Homo sapiens: one gene and its partner. The protein of the gene in region 1 interacts with the protein of each later gene in a pairwise test. Each region holds a gene or a part of one and is shown on either strand. Other genes may lie near its edges.

Region 1 (7,776 bases):
TAGAATCAGTTGAGAGTCACTGTGGGTAAACATCCTTAGTGACTAAAACAAGCCTTCAAGTTGTTGGGTAGGGCTTACATTGCACGCAGCCAACTTGGAAGTTCAATTCTGGTGCACATAATACAAGTCCGTCCCATTTGAATGAACACCACAAACGGTTTGGTGTGACAACACCATTTCTCCACTGTGTCCATATTTACTTGATTGACTGATATGTGGCCAGCACTATGGTTAGCCCTTGTCAACTGGACAAAAAAAGGTAGCAGGCTTTAAAAAACGTTCGTGATCGGACTGGGCTTGGTGGCTCATGCCTGTAATCCCAGCACTTTGGGAGGCTGAGGTGGGCAGATCATGAGGTCAGGAGTTCGAGACCAGCCTGGCCAACATGGTGAAACCCCGTATCTACTAAAAATACAAAAATTAGCCAGGCGTGGTGGTGCGTGCCTGTAATCACAGCTACTCAGGAGGCTGAGGCAGAAGAATCGCTTGAACCCTGGAGGCAGAGGTTGCAGTGAGCCAAGATTGCACCACTGCACTCCAGCCTGGGCAACAGAGCGAGACTCCATCTCAAAAAAGAAAAAAAAGAGGCCGAGGTGGGTGGATCACAAAGTCAGGAGATCGAGACCAGCCTGGCTAACATGGTTAAATCTCATCTCTACTAAAAATACAAAAAATTAGCCAGGCGTGGTGGCGGGCACCTGTAGTCCCAGCTACTGTGGAGGCTGAGGGTGTGAACCTGGGAGGCGGCACTTGCAGTGAGCCGAGATCGTGCCACTACACTCCAGCCTGGGCGACAGAGTGGGAATCCGTCTCAAAAAACAAAACAAAAAAAAGTTCGTGGCTTTTAAGCTTATAGTCTAGTTGGAATGACAAATTGTGGACACTGTGAAATAATTAAAGAACTATAGAAGATCCTTGTGATGCCCCACCTCACCCCCTGACTATGAGGTGGCTTGGGCTGCTATTAATATATATTTCGAGAGGTTCCATGACTTGTCCAAGGTAACCAAGGCACAGGGCAAGCCCCAAAAGCTGCATGTGCTGGCTCTTTTAATGAGCTGTTCCTTTCAATGTTGCATTCTGGGATCCAGACCGTAAATGCCGGCCCATACCAAGAGCATCTGGATGATTCTGGCTTGAACTAGTCCCACAATGTGAACAATGAAGCTTTCTCTAGTGGCAATCTAGGTAGTGGTCATTCTCCCAAGTGAACTTTCAGGGGCTAACTTTGCCCTACAAAGTTAGCTGGGGTTGGTCTGGGTCAACTGTCTCAGAGCAACTGTCTTCAGGTGGGGAAAAGATTGCTGCTGCACTCTGGTTTTGCTATCATCACGTGGCAGTTACCCTTTGATTCCCTTTGAGGTCTCTGCTTCAGGCGTTCCTACCACCACCCACTAAAGGTAGTATCGTACCTCAAACATAGAAAACAAAACCCTATTACCTAGCTCTATTGGTGATACAACACGGAAGAAAGTTTACATGGCCCTAAATATTTAAAAATGTTGATTCTAAATTTGAGGGGTTTTTGGACAGTCATTACATTATTTTCTAACTTCTCTGTGTGTTTGGGATGTTTCTTTTCTTCTTTTCCTTTTTTTTTTTTTTTTCCCCGAGATGGAGTCTTGTTCTGTCGCCCAGGCTGGAATGCAGTGGCGCGATCTCAGCTCACTGCAACCTCCGCCTCCTGGGTTCAAGAAATTATCCTGCCTCAGCCTCCCGAGTAGCTGGGATTACAGGTGTGCACCACCGTGCCCAGCTAATTTTTGTATTTTTAGTAGAAACAGGGTTTCACCATGTTGGCCAGGCTGGTCTCGAACTCCTGACCTCGTGATCTGCCCACCTTGGCCTCTCAAAGTCCTGGGATTACAGGTGTGAGCCACAGCGCCCGGCCTGGGATTTTTCAAAATAAAAAGCGGGCAGAATGACAATGTCCCCCAAATGCACATGGTCCCTTCTTTCAAGGAACTGGTGGAGGCAGACACAAATCACTATCTAATTATCTTTGTGATAAGTGCTACACAGGAGAGTGACTGCCTGCCATGAGATTTCATTACTAAGGGAACCTAACTCAGCAATGAATGGAGGCAGAGGGTGACAGGAAGGGCTTCCTGAGGGCTTCAAATAGGAAATGGGTAGGTGTGAAGGTGGGTGAGATCTCACATCTGCTACTGGGTTGGGAACATTTCATTTGCCAATTCACCCACTTTTATTTTCATTCATTCCTTCAGCACATATTCACTGGGCACTGATCGGCCAGGCCCCGTGCCAGGTGCTGAGGATATAGTGGTGGCCAAGGCACGCAGGAACTCTGCCCTCTCACAGCTTCCAGATGAAAGGCAGGAATAAGCCCTGTTTCCTTTTTACATCCTAAATCCTGGAAATGTGAGTGTTAGCGGTGTTCTTAATACAAAACTACATTATAGCAGAGTGATTTGTCTGTATCATCTAATGAGATTTTGATCTGCAGTCATGTGCATAGCATTTACTTTGTGGAGTCTCTGCTGTAAATTTTCTATTAATTGCTGGCTTTGTTACCAAGCATGGCCACTGCCTTTGTGTGCTATAAGGGAGCAAACCTATTGCATTAGCCTGAGCAAAGCCAATTAGGAAGATAAGTCCTCTGGAAAAAGGTATTCCCAAACTAAGTAGGGCTGATTTCTGGACTTGCCTGGGTTTTTGGATGATCAGAGCCATGGTTTAATATTAGCATGAACAATTGAGAAGGGCTTTTAGTTGCATGTACATTAAAACTACATTCAAGACAGATGAGGCCAGGTGCGGTGGCTCACGTCTGTAATCCCAGCACTTTGGGAGGCCGAGGCGGGCAGATCATGAGGTTAGGAGATCCAGACCATTCTGGCTAACACGGTGAAACCCCATCTCTACTAAAAATTAAAAAATTAGCCGGGCGTGGTGGCGGGTGCCTGTAGTCCCAGCTACTCTGGAGGCTGAAACAGGAGAATGGCGTGAACCCGGGAGGCGGAGCTTGCAGTGAGCCGAGATTGTGCCACTGCACTCCATCCTGGGCGACAGAGTGAGACTCCGTCTCAAAAAAGAAAAAAAAAAAAAGACAGATGAAAGAAAGAAAGAAGGAAAGAAGGAAAAAGAAGGAAAGAAGGAAAGCCATGGATATATATAACATGTTTCTTTCAACGATCTCGAAATGCTTCCATCTGTATGATTTCATTTTCCCCAATGGCTTCCTGGACAAGTATTACTGTTCCCTTTATTTAATGGGTGTAGGGAGACCAAGTTACTTAGTCCGAAGTGCTATTGCTGGTCAGTGGGTGATACGATTAAACACCCACCAGATGACACAGATTCCTTGTTTAAAAACACTTGTCTTTTCATGATGTTTCTAAGACATCAAAATCCTGCCATGACCTCTCTTCCCCCTCTTTTCACTACACTCCCTCAGCACTCCCATAGGGCCCAGGGAAGAGTATACTAGGGTGATTCGGAGACTCTCTGATATTAAAAAGATTCTCAGCTTAAATCCAATATAGCACAGTCACGGGTTGTGTGGGTTTTCTTTTTTATTTTTTCTTCTCCATATTGCTTTAAATAAAAATCTTGGAGCCACCAGCCATGTAATGATGGATTATTTTAAGTAACAACTGGAGTGGGGGGCGCAGAATAAATTAGAAACACAGACCCTTCCTCCTCAGTTTGGCAGGAGGAGGCTTCTGCTGCTGGGATTTGAAACCGTGGGTTTCTCTGCCGCCTGCACAGAGGAAGGAGGCCACATGCTCAGGAGGGTGAGAAATAATGTTATCCTCTTCTTCAGTGTCTTCTCATTAGAGGCAGCCATCTGCTGAATTATGCAGCGCGCTCTCAGCCGGCCCTTCCACTCACTTAAAGGTGACCAGGGAAAAGATCTGCAGGCCTTCTCAGCGAGAGGCCTCAGGGCTCAGGTTTCCCCTGCCATGGCCCTCTCTGACCCGGAATGAAGGCCCTGGGGTAACGGGGCAGAACTCTGTTTTCCTGGCCCTGATGAGGTGTGAGGTCGTGTTCGGTTTCCTTTCACATTGGAGGCCCCCAGCTCTGAACACTGGCGCTGAGGCAGGAACTGGGTTTTTTTCAGATCCCCATTAAACAAGACCAGATGGAGGCAGAGGCAAATTCAGGCTCCCCAGAGGGCAGTTGGGCATTCACCCAGAGGCCTGTGGGTAAACCTTTTCTTTTTTAGCAGATTGGAGGTAACAATAGCCAGAACACCTAGAAAACTCTCTTTCAATTGTCTGGCTTCCAGGGAATCTGGCTGGCTTTTGTGGGAAAGTTTCACTCACCCTGAGCAAGGGTCACCCCTGGCCTGAGGTGGGGATATTTGACCTAGACTTAGGCTTGTGTTAGTCTTGGGGTTCTTCAGCAGAACTGGGCAGCTGGCCAGGCTGAGACTTAGGCCGCAGTCAAAAGAGAGGGAAACAGGAGGAAAAAGTGGGGAAGTGAGTAGAGAGCAGGAACACACAATGAGTGCCTTCCACCGCATTGACTGCTTCAGTTGCCTTCTGTGGGCCAGAACCACCTTGGGGAGCTCACGGGTTTCCAGATTCGGTTCCTTGACCCTTCTGCCCCTGACCAGCATCAAGCCAGAAGCTCAATGTCCCGGAATTTTACCAGTCTAAAGAAACACATGTGCCACTTGAGTCAGCTTTTCCATTTGAGAGTGGCCGTTGGCTCGACAGGGGCCTGGATCCTAGCACTATTCTCTGTCACTAAATCAGTCTGTGACGTGAGCCAAGTCACTTCCTCTCTGTGAGTCTCTGTTTCCCCTTTTGTGAAACGAAAGGGCTGGATTAGGTGATCTTTAAGGGCGTTTCCAGCTCTAACATTGTATGGTGCTTATGTTTCCTTTTTCTCCAGCCTCATTTCTTTTAGGTCCTTGCCTGCGTCTGCTTCCGAATGAGGTGGCAGAATTGAACCCCACCCCTTCCCTGCTTTGACCCCTTGAGCTGGGTGGGGAGAGAGTCGTAGGGAAGGTCGATCTATGCTTTTAGCTCAGCAGGCTCTCGGTAAGTGGAACAGAAACAACCCTTCAGATATTGCCTGTCCATGTAGGTGTAGATAGCTATTGTCTTCCTATAAAGGTACATGACAGCTGAATGTTTGTCTATTGAATCCTGCTTTCAATGCAGTAGAAGAGCCGGCTACTTAATGGAATCCTGCTGTGAATCCTTTTATAGAATGAAAAGCCACTCTGGAATTTATCTTGTGTATTAAAATCAGTTTCATCTATTGGATTTGCCAAAAATGGGCCTCCTCCTCTGTCTGGTAAGGATAGTCTGTCTTGTGCTTCTTCAGCACAACTGCTCCCCAACTGAAGGGCATTTCTGAGGCCCCTTGGGGGTGCTGCCAGCTTTTGCAGGCCTTATTTCTCCTTAGAACAGCCCCCACATTTCTCTTTCCCAGGATAGGGCATTGCTACTACTCAGTTTCCTCTTAGCCTGGCTTAATTAGCATGAGGGACATTCTGATATTTGATGTGTTGGATGCATTTGAGAATTGTTTTTAAAACCTGTGGGAACTTGGCTGTGTGCGGGGGCTCACACCTGTAATCCCAGCACTTTAGGAGACTGAGGCGGGCGGATCACCTGAGGTTAGGAGTTCGAGACCAGCCTGGCCAATATGGCAAAACCCCGTCTCTTCTAAAAATACAAACATTAGCTGGATGTGGTGGTGGGCGCCTGTAATCCCAGCTACTCGGGAGGCTGAGGTAGGAGAATCACTTGAACCCTGGAGACGGAGGTTGCAATGAGCTGAGATCGTGCCACCGCACTCCAGCCTGAGAGAGACAGAGTGAGACTCCATCTCAGAAAAAAAAAAAAAAAAAAAAAACCTCTGGGAACTTATCAGTGCTTTTGTGGTTCTTATGACATAATACAGCGGCATCCTTGGCAGCATTGGAGGCAGCAGAGGAAGCTATCAGCTACCTGATTGTTTCATCAAGACTTTTTGCTACATGTTTCAGGATATATGATTTGACTTCTGGTTCACATGAATCATTATAATAAGAAATTATACTGTATGACAATAAGTTATATATATAATATGTAATAATAAGTTATAATAAGGGGGCTGGGCACAGTGGCTCACGCCTATATTCCCAGAACTTTGGGAGGCCGAGGCGAGTGGATCACCTGAAGTCAGGAGTTCTAGACCAGCCTGGCCAACATGGTGAAACCCCATCTCTACTAAACTAAAAATACAAAAATTAGCTGGGTGTGGTGGTACACACCTGTAATCCCAGCTACTCAGGAAGCTGAGGCAGGAGAATCGCTTGAAACCAGGAGGGAGAGGTTGCAGTGAGCTGAGATCGCGCCACTGCACTCCAGCCTGGTTGACAGAGTGAGACACTGTCTCAAAAAAAAAAAAAAAAAGAAGTTATAATAAGGAGACTAATAGGGTTTTATTGTATTTCTGGTAAAATAAATGTTTTATATACAATAAAACTGCCTGAAAGCTAAATGCTCTGATGACCCAAATTGTCAGGCACCTTTTTGGTTGTAGTTCAATATTTTTCTAAAATACCTGAGGCCACTTTCCTACCCAGGAAAGTATCATCATAGAATCTTTTTTAAAAAAGTAACATTTTCCCTGTTTATAAAAGTAAAATATGCCTATTGTAGAACATTTGGAAAACCCAGAAAAGCAACATCACCTACAACCTCTCTACCCAAAAGAAATCACTGACATTATTTTGGCATGTGTTCTTCTAATCTTTTAAAAAATGTGTATTTTCCCCCATCATTGGGATGACCCTGTGTATACAGGTTGGTTTTCCTGTTGTTGTTTGCCTTTGGTGAGCATTTCCTTTTGTCATTAAATATTCTTAGAAAACATTTTTCTCAGCTGCTTAATATTCCATCATGTATCACTGAACCGATGATTCATAGTCTTGGAGATTTGCACGGTCTTTCAGACATCAGTGTTCAGGGCTGAGAGTGGAAATGGAGAAAAGGGAGGTGTGAGAGCTTGGGCCCACCAGTAGGTGACTGAAGAGAGTCCGGTTTCAGTGTTTCTTTTCTTTCCTAGCATTTTTGTTGTTGTTGTTTGTTTGTTTGTTTTGAGACAGAGTCTCCCTCTGTTGCCCAGACTGGAGTGCAGTTGTGCGATCTCAGCTCATTGCAACCTCCGCCTCCTGCGTTCAAGCGATTCTCCTGCCTCAGCCTCCCAACTGGCTGGGACTACAGGCATGAGCCACCAAGCCTGGCTAATTTTTGTATTTTCAGTAGAGACGGGTTTTCCCAGTGTTGGCCAGGCTGGTTTCGAATTCCTGGCCCCAAGTAATCTGCCCGCCTTGGCCTCCCAAAGTGCTGGGATTACAGGCATGAGCCACCGTACCTGGCCGCTTTCCTAGTATTTGGATGGGAATGGCCAGAGGAGAAAGTTTAGGGACAGCCTAGTCATCAGCAATGAGTTTCAAACTTTTTGCTTTTATTCTTTAGAATGACAGCTACTAATTTAGCCACCCTGGTTTGAAACAGAGGCGGGAAATTCTCCATTGACACAGATGCACCCTCAGTTCCCAGAGGCCTCAAATACGGCTTGCTTACTATCACAGAGGTTGGAAGAGGGGCCAAGGGGAGTGGGGGACAGAGGTGGCCTACTCGGGTGCTTAAGGGACTCTTTATTTTCAGTAACAGCAATGAGAGAAAGATGCGCAGCTGGAACCACCATAACTTGTTCTTGATAATATGAACCTTACGAATATTCAATTAAAAAACGAAATTGGTGTGTCCTCAGGAGAGGAGGCAGAAGAGAAAGAGAGCAGTGTTT
Region 2 (7,388 bases), on another chromosome or scaffold:
GAAAGATGAGAGAAATGGCTTAGCTACCTGGAGGGTTAATTATAAAACAGAGGTCCTGTTGCCTTCCGATCTGATCACTTGCATCTCATTTGCAGATCACCTTTAGGCTCCACAGCCTCTGCCCCAGCACCCTCAGCACTCCCGGCCCCTCCAGCACCCCCAGTCTTCCATGGCATGCTGGAGCGGGCCCCAGCAGAGCCCTCCTACCGTGCTCCCATGGAGAAGCTTTTCTACTTACCTCATGTCTGCAGCTATACCTGTCTGTCTCGAGTCAGACCTATGAGGAATGAGCAGTACCGGGGCAAGAACCCTCTGCTGGTCCCGTTACTATATGACTTCCGGCGGATGACAGCCCGGCGTCGAGTTAACCGCAAGATGGGCTTTCATGTTATCTATAAGACACCTTGTGGTCTCTGCCTTCGGACAATGCAGGAGATAGAACGCTACCTTTTCGAGACTGGCTGTGACTTCCTCTTCCTGGAGATGTTCTGTTTGGATCCATATGTTCTTGTGGACCGAAAGTTTCAGCCCTATAAGCCTTTTTACTATATTTTGGACATCACTTATGGGAAGGAAGATGTTCCCCTATCCTGTGTCAATGAGATTGACACAACCCCTCCACCCCAGGTGGCCTACAGCAAGGAACGTATCCCGGGCAAGGGTGTTTTCATTAACACAGGCCCTGAATTTCTGGTTGGCTGTGACTGCAAGGATGGGTGTCGGGACAAGTGAGTTGGTGGGGGGAATTGCTGCCCCTGCTTCCAACTTTGTTATGGTGTCTGTTTCACCTCTTCCTTTGCCTTGTATCTGTACTGCTTTCCCCATCTTCCTTTACCTCCTCCCTCACCTGGAACTCCTGCTATAAGGCCTCCATGAAAGCTATGAGGTAGGGAGGCTGGAGTCTGACATGGCCACACTGAGCAACCTTGGGTACATGTGTATTGTGTTATTTTTGTTCTCTGATCCCCCCGCTCCTTTCCTTTATTTCCCTCTGTCATATAGGTCCAAGTGTGCCTGCCATCAACTAACTATCCAGGCTACAGCCTGTACCCCAGGAGGCCAAATCAACCCTAACTCTGGCTACCAGTACAAGAGACTAGAAGAGTGTCTACCCACAGGGTAAGTGGTCAAGGAATGGCACAGTACCTCAGAGAGACTGAGGAGCATGTTCTTGTTTTTCTGTGCTTATAGAAATCATCAGAAATCTAAAAATTGGAACCAAAAATAGAATACCAGATGAGGCATTTTATTAATTAGATCTTATTTCATGACTTCCAAAACACATTTTTTTTCTTGGACCTTCCTTGAAATGAAGACATAGAATGATTGAATAGTATCTAGCAATTTTCTGTTGCAAAAAAAGATTATCTTAATTTCATAGCTAAATGAATGTCTTAACAGATTGTGATTTACACTTGTAAGTGAAATGTGTTCAGAGAGGAGAAGTAGGCAGGGACCTGATTACATAGGGCTTTGTAAATCAGAATGAAAAAAGTTAGAATCAGGCTGGCACAGTGGCTCACACCTGTAATCCCAGCACTTTCGGAGGCCAAGGTGGGTGGATCACCTGAGGTCAGGAGTTTGAGACCAGCCTGGCCAACCTGGTGAAACCCTGTCTCTACTAAAAATACAAAAATTAGCCGGGGGTGGTGGCGGGTGCCTGCAGTCCCAACTACTTGGGAGGCTGAGGCAGGAGAATCGCTTGAATCCAGGAGGCAGAGGTTGCAGTGAGCCAAGATCATGCCACTGCACTTCAGCCTGGGTGACAAGAGCGAGACTCTGCCTTAAAAAAAAAAAAAGAAAAGTTAGAATCAAATTCATGGTGCTCTTACAGGATTTTAAGCTGCCAAGTGATGTGACCTGCCTTTTTCAGATTACTCTGGCTTCTTTGTAGATCATAGGTCTTAGGATGGCAAAAGTAGATTTTGGAAGACCAATTAGGAGATCGTTATAGGAGTACAGCAGAGAGAGACATTGTTGCAGCTATGACTTGCAATAGAATGGAGGTGATAGTAGAGGTAAGAAGGATAGATTTGGGCTGTATTAATAGGTAGAGCTACAGAATTGGATAGATTATGGAGTGGGGGGAAAGAGTAGAATCAAGGACAATTCCTAAATTTTTGGCTTGAGCATCTTAGTGGTTGTTGGTGCTTTTTACTGAGATGGAAGACCGAAGGAGTAGTAGGTTTGAGTGAAATTCAGTTTTTGTTTTGGCCATGTTAAGTTTGAAATGCCGCCGGGCGCAGTGGCTCACGCCTGTAATCCCAGCACTTTGGGAGGCTGAGGCGGGCGGATCACCTGAGGTCGGGAGTTCAAGACCAGCCTTGACCAACATGGAGAAATCCCGTCTCTACTAAAAATACAAAAAAAAAAAATTAGCCGGGCATGGTGGCGCATGCCTGTAATCTCAGCTACTCGGGAGGCTGAGGCAGGAGAATTGCTTGAATCTGGGAGGCGGAGGTTGTGGTGAGCTAAGATCGCACCATTGCACTCCAGCCTGGGCAACAAGAGCGAAACTCAGTCTCAGAAAACAAAACAAAACAAAAAGTTTGAAATGCCTGTCAGGCAATCCAAGTAGAAATGTCAAGAAGACACTGGGATTTCTGGAGAGAGTGGGATATAAAAATTTAGGAATCATCAGCACAGGAGTATTTAAAGCCTGAATAAGTTCACCTAGAGACAATGTTGATAATAGAGAAGGCGGCTCAGGAGTAAGCCCTGGGTGCCCCAACATTTAAAGGTTGAGCAGAGGAGGTGGAACCAGCATGAGGTTGAGGACAGCTACTGAGGAGGGTGAGGCCGAAAGATTACTTGAGGCCTGGAGTTTGAGACCAGACTGGGCAACATAGTAAGACCCTGTGTCTAAAAAAAAATTGTTGGGGCTGGGCGTGGTGGCTCACGCCTGTAATCCCAGCACTTTTCGAGGCTGAGGCAGGCAGATCACTTGAGGTCAGGAGTTCAAGACCAGCCTGGCCAATATGGTGAAACCCCATCTCTACTAAAAATACAAAAAACTTGCCAGGGATGGTGGCGAGCACCTGTAATCCCAGCTACTTGGGAGGCTGAGACAGGAGAATCACTTGGACCCAGGAGGTGGAGGTTGCAGTGAGCCAAGACCGCACCATTGCACTCCAGCCTGGGCAAGAAAAGCAAAATTCTATCTCAAAAAAAAAAAAAAATTGTTGGCCATGCGCGGTGGCTCATGCCTGTAATCCCAACACTTTGGGAGGCCAAGGTGGGTGGATCACCTGAGGTCAGGAGTTCAAGAACAGCCTGGCCAACATGGTGAAACCCCATCTGTAATAAAAATACAAAAATTAGCCAGGCGTGATTGTGCACGCCTGTAATCTCAGCTATTTGGGAGGCTGAGGCAAGAGAATCGCTTGAAGCTGGGAGGCAGAGATTACAGTAAGCTGAGATTGCACCACTGCACTCCAGTCTGGACAACACAACAAGACTCCGTCTCAAAAAAAATGATTTAAAAATTAAAAAAAAAATTTTTTTTTTTTTTAGATGGAGTCTTGCTCTGTCGCCCAGGCTGGAGTGCAGTGGCGTGATCTCAGCTCACTGCAAGCTCCGCCTTCCGGGTTCACGCCATTCTCCTGCCTCAGCCTCCCGAGAAGCTGGGACTACAGTCGCCCACCACCACGCCTGACTACTTTTTTGTATTTTTAGTAGAGACAGGGTTTCACCATGTTAGCCAGGATGGTCTCTATCTCCTGACCTCATGATCCGTCTGCCTCAGCCTCCCAAAGTGCTGGGATTACAGGCGTGAGCCACCGCGCCCAGCCTAAATTATTTTTTAAAAAATTAGCCGGGCATGGTAGATGCATGCCTGTAGTCCCAGCTACTTGAGAGGCAGAGGCAGAAAGATCACTTGAGCCCAGTAGTTCAAGGCTGCAGTGAGCTATGATCACACCACTACACTCTAGCCTGGGGTGACAGAGCATGACTCTTATCTCTAAAACAAGAGGAGGACAACAAAAGAGTGGGGTATAGCATGGTAAACTGGTATATATAAACACGTGAACTAATAAACCTAGTGATCAGAATACATAATTAACAGAACAGAGGAGAAAAGCATCAGTGAAATAATTCAGAAAGTGTCCCATAATTGAAGGATCTTTGTTTCTGAATTGAAAGGGCCAGTTAGGTCCCAACATAATGAAGGATAAAGGTAGGTTCCCATTAAGAGACATTATCATAAAATGTCAGAACACTGAGGGAAAAAAAAATCCTAAAAGCTTCTAGAGAAGAGAAATAGAACACGTTAAAAAATAGACTTGAAATGACTTCAGCCTTCCCTGAAAGTAGCACTAGAAGCTAGATAGCAATTGGAGAATCTGTTCAGAATTCTAAGGGAAAATTATTTCCAACCTGGAATTTTAAACTCGGGCAAACTATCAATTTGGTGTTACAGTAGGCTAAATACATTTTTTTAGACATGCAGTACCTCAGAGTTTTTCATCATTCCCCTTCTCAGAAAGTTTCTGGAAATATTTGCAAAAATGAGAGGGAAAGGCAGGAAAGGGGAAGACAGGTGACAGTGCAGTGAAAGAGGCTTCCAGGCTGACAGCTGTGTACTAGGCATAGAGAAGAGCCACTGCAGGAGCAGGTCAGATGCTGTAGGAGCGACTTCTTCAGGAAAATTGGTTTAACAGAAAACCTGAGGTGCCTGAATACATTCAGAGGAGATCGAGACTACTGGGGAGATCATAGGATGAATTTGTACTGATAACATTGAAAAACTAAACAAAGGAATAGACAGTTGTTTAGTTGCATTGCTGTATCATGTATGTTTTAATTATTAACAAAATTTTGAATCTAACAATAGCGTTTAGATTTGATAATGCTGGGTGGTACATGAGTGTTCATATCTTTTTTACACGTTTGAAATGTTTCATAAAAATATTTTCAAATAATCACAAATAATATATCACTCCCCTGCTTAACTCTATAATATAGTCCCTCTGCTGTTTGGATTTTATTCTGACTCTTAACCTTAGGTTATATATTTGGCCCTTTCCTGTCTCCCTCCAAAGTCATTCCAACCACACTGATATTTTTCAGTTCCTGGATCCAGTTCAACCAGTGTTTTCCAGCCTGCCTCTGGAGACTTGCACATGCTGTGCCTTCTTCTTGGCATCCTTCCACTTTTCTTTGTGTGGCTATCTTCTTTAACCTTGAGCTTTCAGCTGTAAAGTCACCTCCTCAGAGAGACCTTCCCTGACCACTTTAAAACTAGGTCATTTTACTCCCTTAATTCTCTCATTGAGCACCATGTTTGTGTTCTTTATAGCATTTATGACAACTTTTGTTGACTTGTTTTTCTTTTTTTCTATTATATAAGCTCCTTCATGAGGGCAAGGATCTTATCTGTCTCTTTGTCTTGCTAACCATTGTATCACCAGTTTACCCAATGCCTGGCACATAGTAATCACTTAGGCCAGGTGCAGTGGCTGATGCCTGTAATCCCAGCACTTTGGGAGGCCAAGGCGGGCAGATCACTTGAGGTCAGGAGTTCGAGACCAGCCTAGCCAACATGGTGAAACCCTGTCTCTACTAATAAAGTATAAAAAATTAGCCAGGCGTGGTGGCACATGCCTGTAGTGCTAGCTACTCAGGAGGCTGAGATGGGAGAATTGGTTGAACCCAGGAGGCAGAGGTTGCAGTGAGCCGAGATTGCACCATTGCACTCCAGCCTGGGCGACAGAAGGAGACTTCGTCTCAAAAAAAAAAAAAAAGCCAAGCGCAGTGGCTCACGCCTGTAATCCCAGCACTTTGGGAGGCCGAGACAGGTGGATTACGAGGTCAGGAATTCAAGATCAGCCTGGCCAAGATGTTGAAACCCCGTCTCTACTAAAAATACAAAAATTAGCCATGTGCGGTGGCAGGCGCCTGTAATCCCAGCTACTCCAGAGGCTGAGGCAGGAGAATCACTTGAACCCGCGAGGTGGAGGTTGCAGTGAGCCAAGATCCCACCACTGCACTCCGGCCTAGGCAATAGAGTGAGACTCCGCCTCAAAAAAAAAAAAAAAAGTAACCACTTAAATTTTGTGGAATGAATGAATGATAGTATAGCTACTGTAAAGGTTTCATGTGGTAATAATGACACCTGAGTTCAAATTCCAGCCCTGCCCCTACTGAGCTGATCTTTTTTGATCAGCTGTAAACAGAGGATATTAACATAAACACCCCCATGTCCCCAGTGGGGTTTTAAGGGACCTAACAAAGTTGTTTCTTGATCTGGTGCAGGTTACATGGTATGCTGAGTTTGTAAAATTCATTGATCTGTATAGACTTACGTGTACTTTCCTCTGTGTATATTACGTTTCAATAATCTTTTATTTCCCCCTACCCACTAGACCACCAGGGAAATAATCTCTTTTTTTTTTTTGCTATGGAGTCTTGCTCCCAAAGTGCTGGGATTACCGACATGGGAAATAATCTTTTTTAAAGTTAGAAAAAAAAGCTAGACATGGTGGCTCACACCTGTAATCCCAGCACTTTGGGAGGCCGTGGTGGGGGGATGGCTTGAGTTCAGTAGTTCCAGACTTGCCTGGGCAATGTGATGAGACCTTGTCTCTACAAAAAAAGTTTTAAAAATTAGCTGGGCATGTGGCATGCAGCTGTGGTCCCAGCTACTTAGGAGACTGAGGCAGGAGGATCACTTGAGCCCAGGAGGTCAAGGCTGCAGTGAGCTGTGTTTGTGCCGCTGCACTATGGTCTGGGTGACAGAGCAAGACCATGACTCAAAAAAAAAAAAAATGGGAGGTCGAAGCAGGTGGATCACCTGAGGTCAGGAGTTCAAGACCAGCCTGGCCAACATGGTAAAACCCTGTCTCCAATACAAAAATTAGCAGGGTATGATGGCATGCACCTATAATCCCAGCTACTTGGGAGGCTGAGGCAGGAGAATCGCTTGAACCCAGGAAGCGGAGGTTGGGCGACAAAGCGAGACTGTGTCTCAAAAAGAAAAAACACCACCTGTATTAGGGCAGCTTTAAGGATAGAATATGTATATATAAGGCATTCACACAATGCCAAACACAAAAGTATATGCTTAGTAACTAGAAGCTGCTCTTACCATCTTTATCTGGAGAGAGGATATGACTAAAATCGTGAACTAACTGAGCTGTTGATACATTTCCAAAGTAAATTTCTTCCATTGATTTTACATACCAAGAAAATAAGTAAAATTCTAACACTGGGCAAATAGAGCAAAAACATTGTTACCTGAAACAATTAGTTTTCTTAGTATAACTGTGTTATCTTCCTTTAATGTTGGTATGTGCTAGATCCCTCTGATTACCTTTAATGGTTGTTTAAAAATAATTAAAATTTTTTTCTTTTTCAGAGATGGGGTGGACTTGCTTTGTCATTCAGGC

The links. The genes of interacting proteins can lie anywhere in the genome.
Region 2: the proteins of SEPTIN6 (region 1) and SETDB1 interact in binary tests that used the Homo sapiens proteins (3 or more experiments, as listed by UniProt).

The regions. Positions count from the first base shown.
Region 1 is NC_000023.11:119,682,542-119,690,317, reverse strand, and holds part of SEPTIN6 (septin-6), read left to right. Parts: intron 1-7,776. UniProt on the Homo sapiens protein: Filament-forming cytoskeletal GTPase. Required for normal organization of the actin cytoskeleton. Involved in cytokinesis. May play a role in HCV RNA replication.
Region 2 is NC_000001.11:150,950,363-150,957,750, forward strand, and holds part of SETDB1 (histone-lysine N-methyltransferase SETDB1), read left to right. Parts: intron 1-95; coding exon 96-728; coding exon of another isoform or gene 729-732; intron 733-1,002; coding exon 1,003-1,119; intron 1,120-7,388. UniProt on the Homo sapiens protein: Histone methyltransferase that specifically trimethylates 'Lys-9' of histone H3. H3 'Lys-9' trimethylation represents a specific tag for epigenetic transcriptional repression by recruiting HP1 (CBX1, CBX3 and/or CBX5) proteins to methylated histones.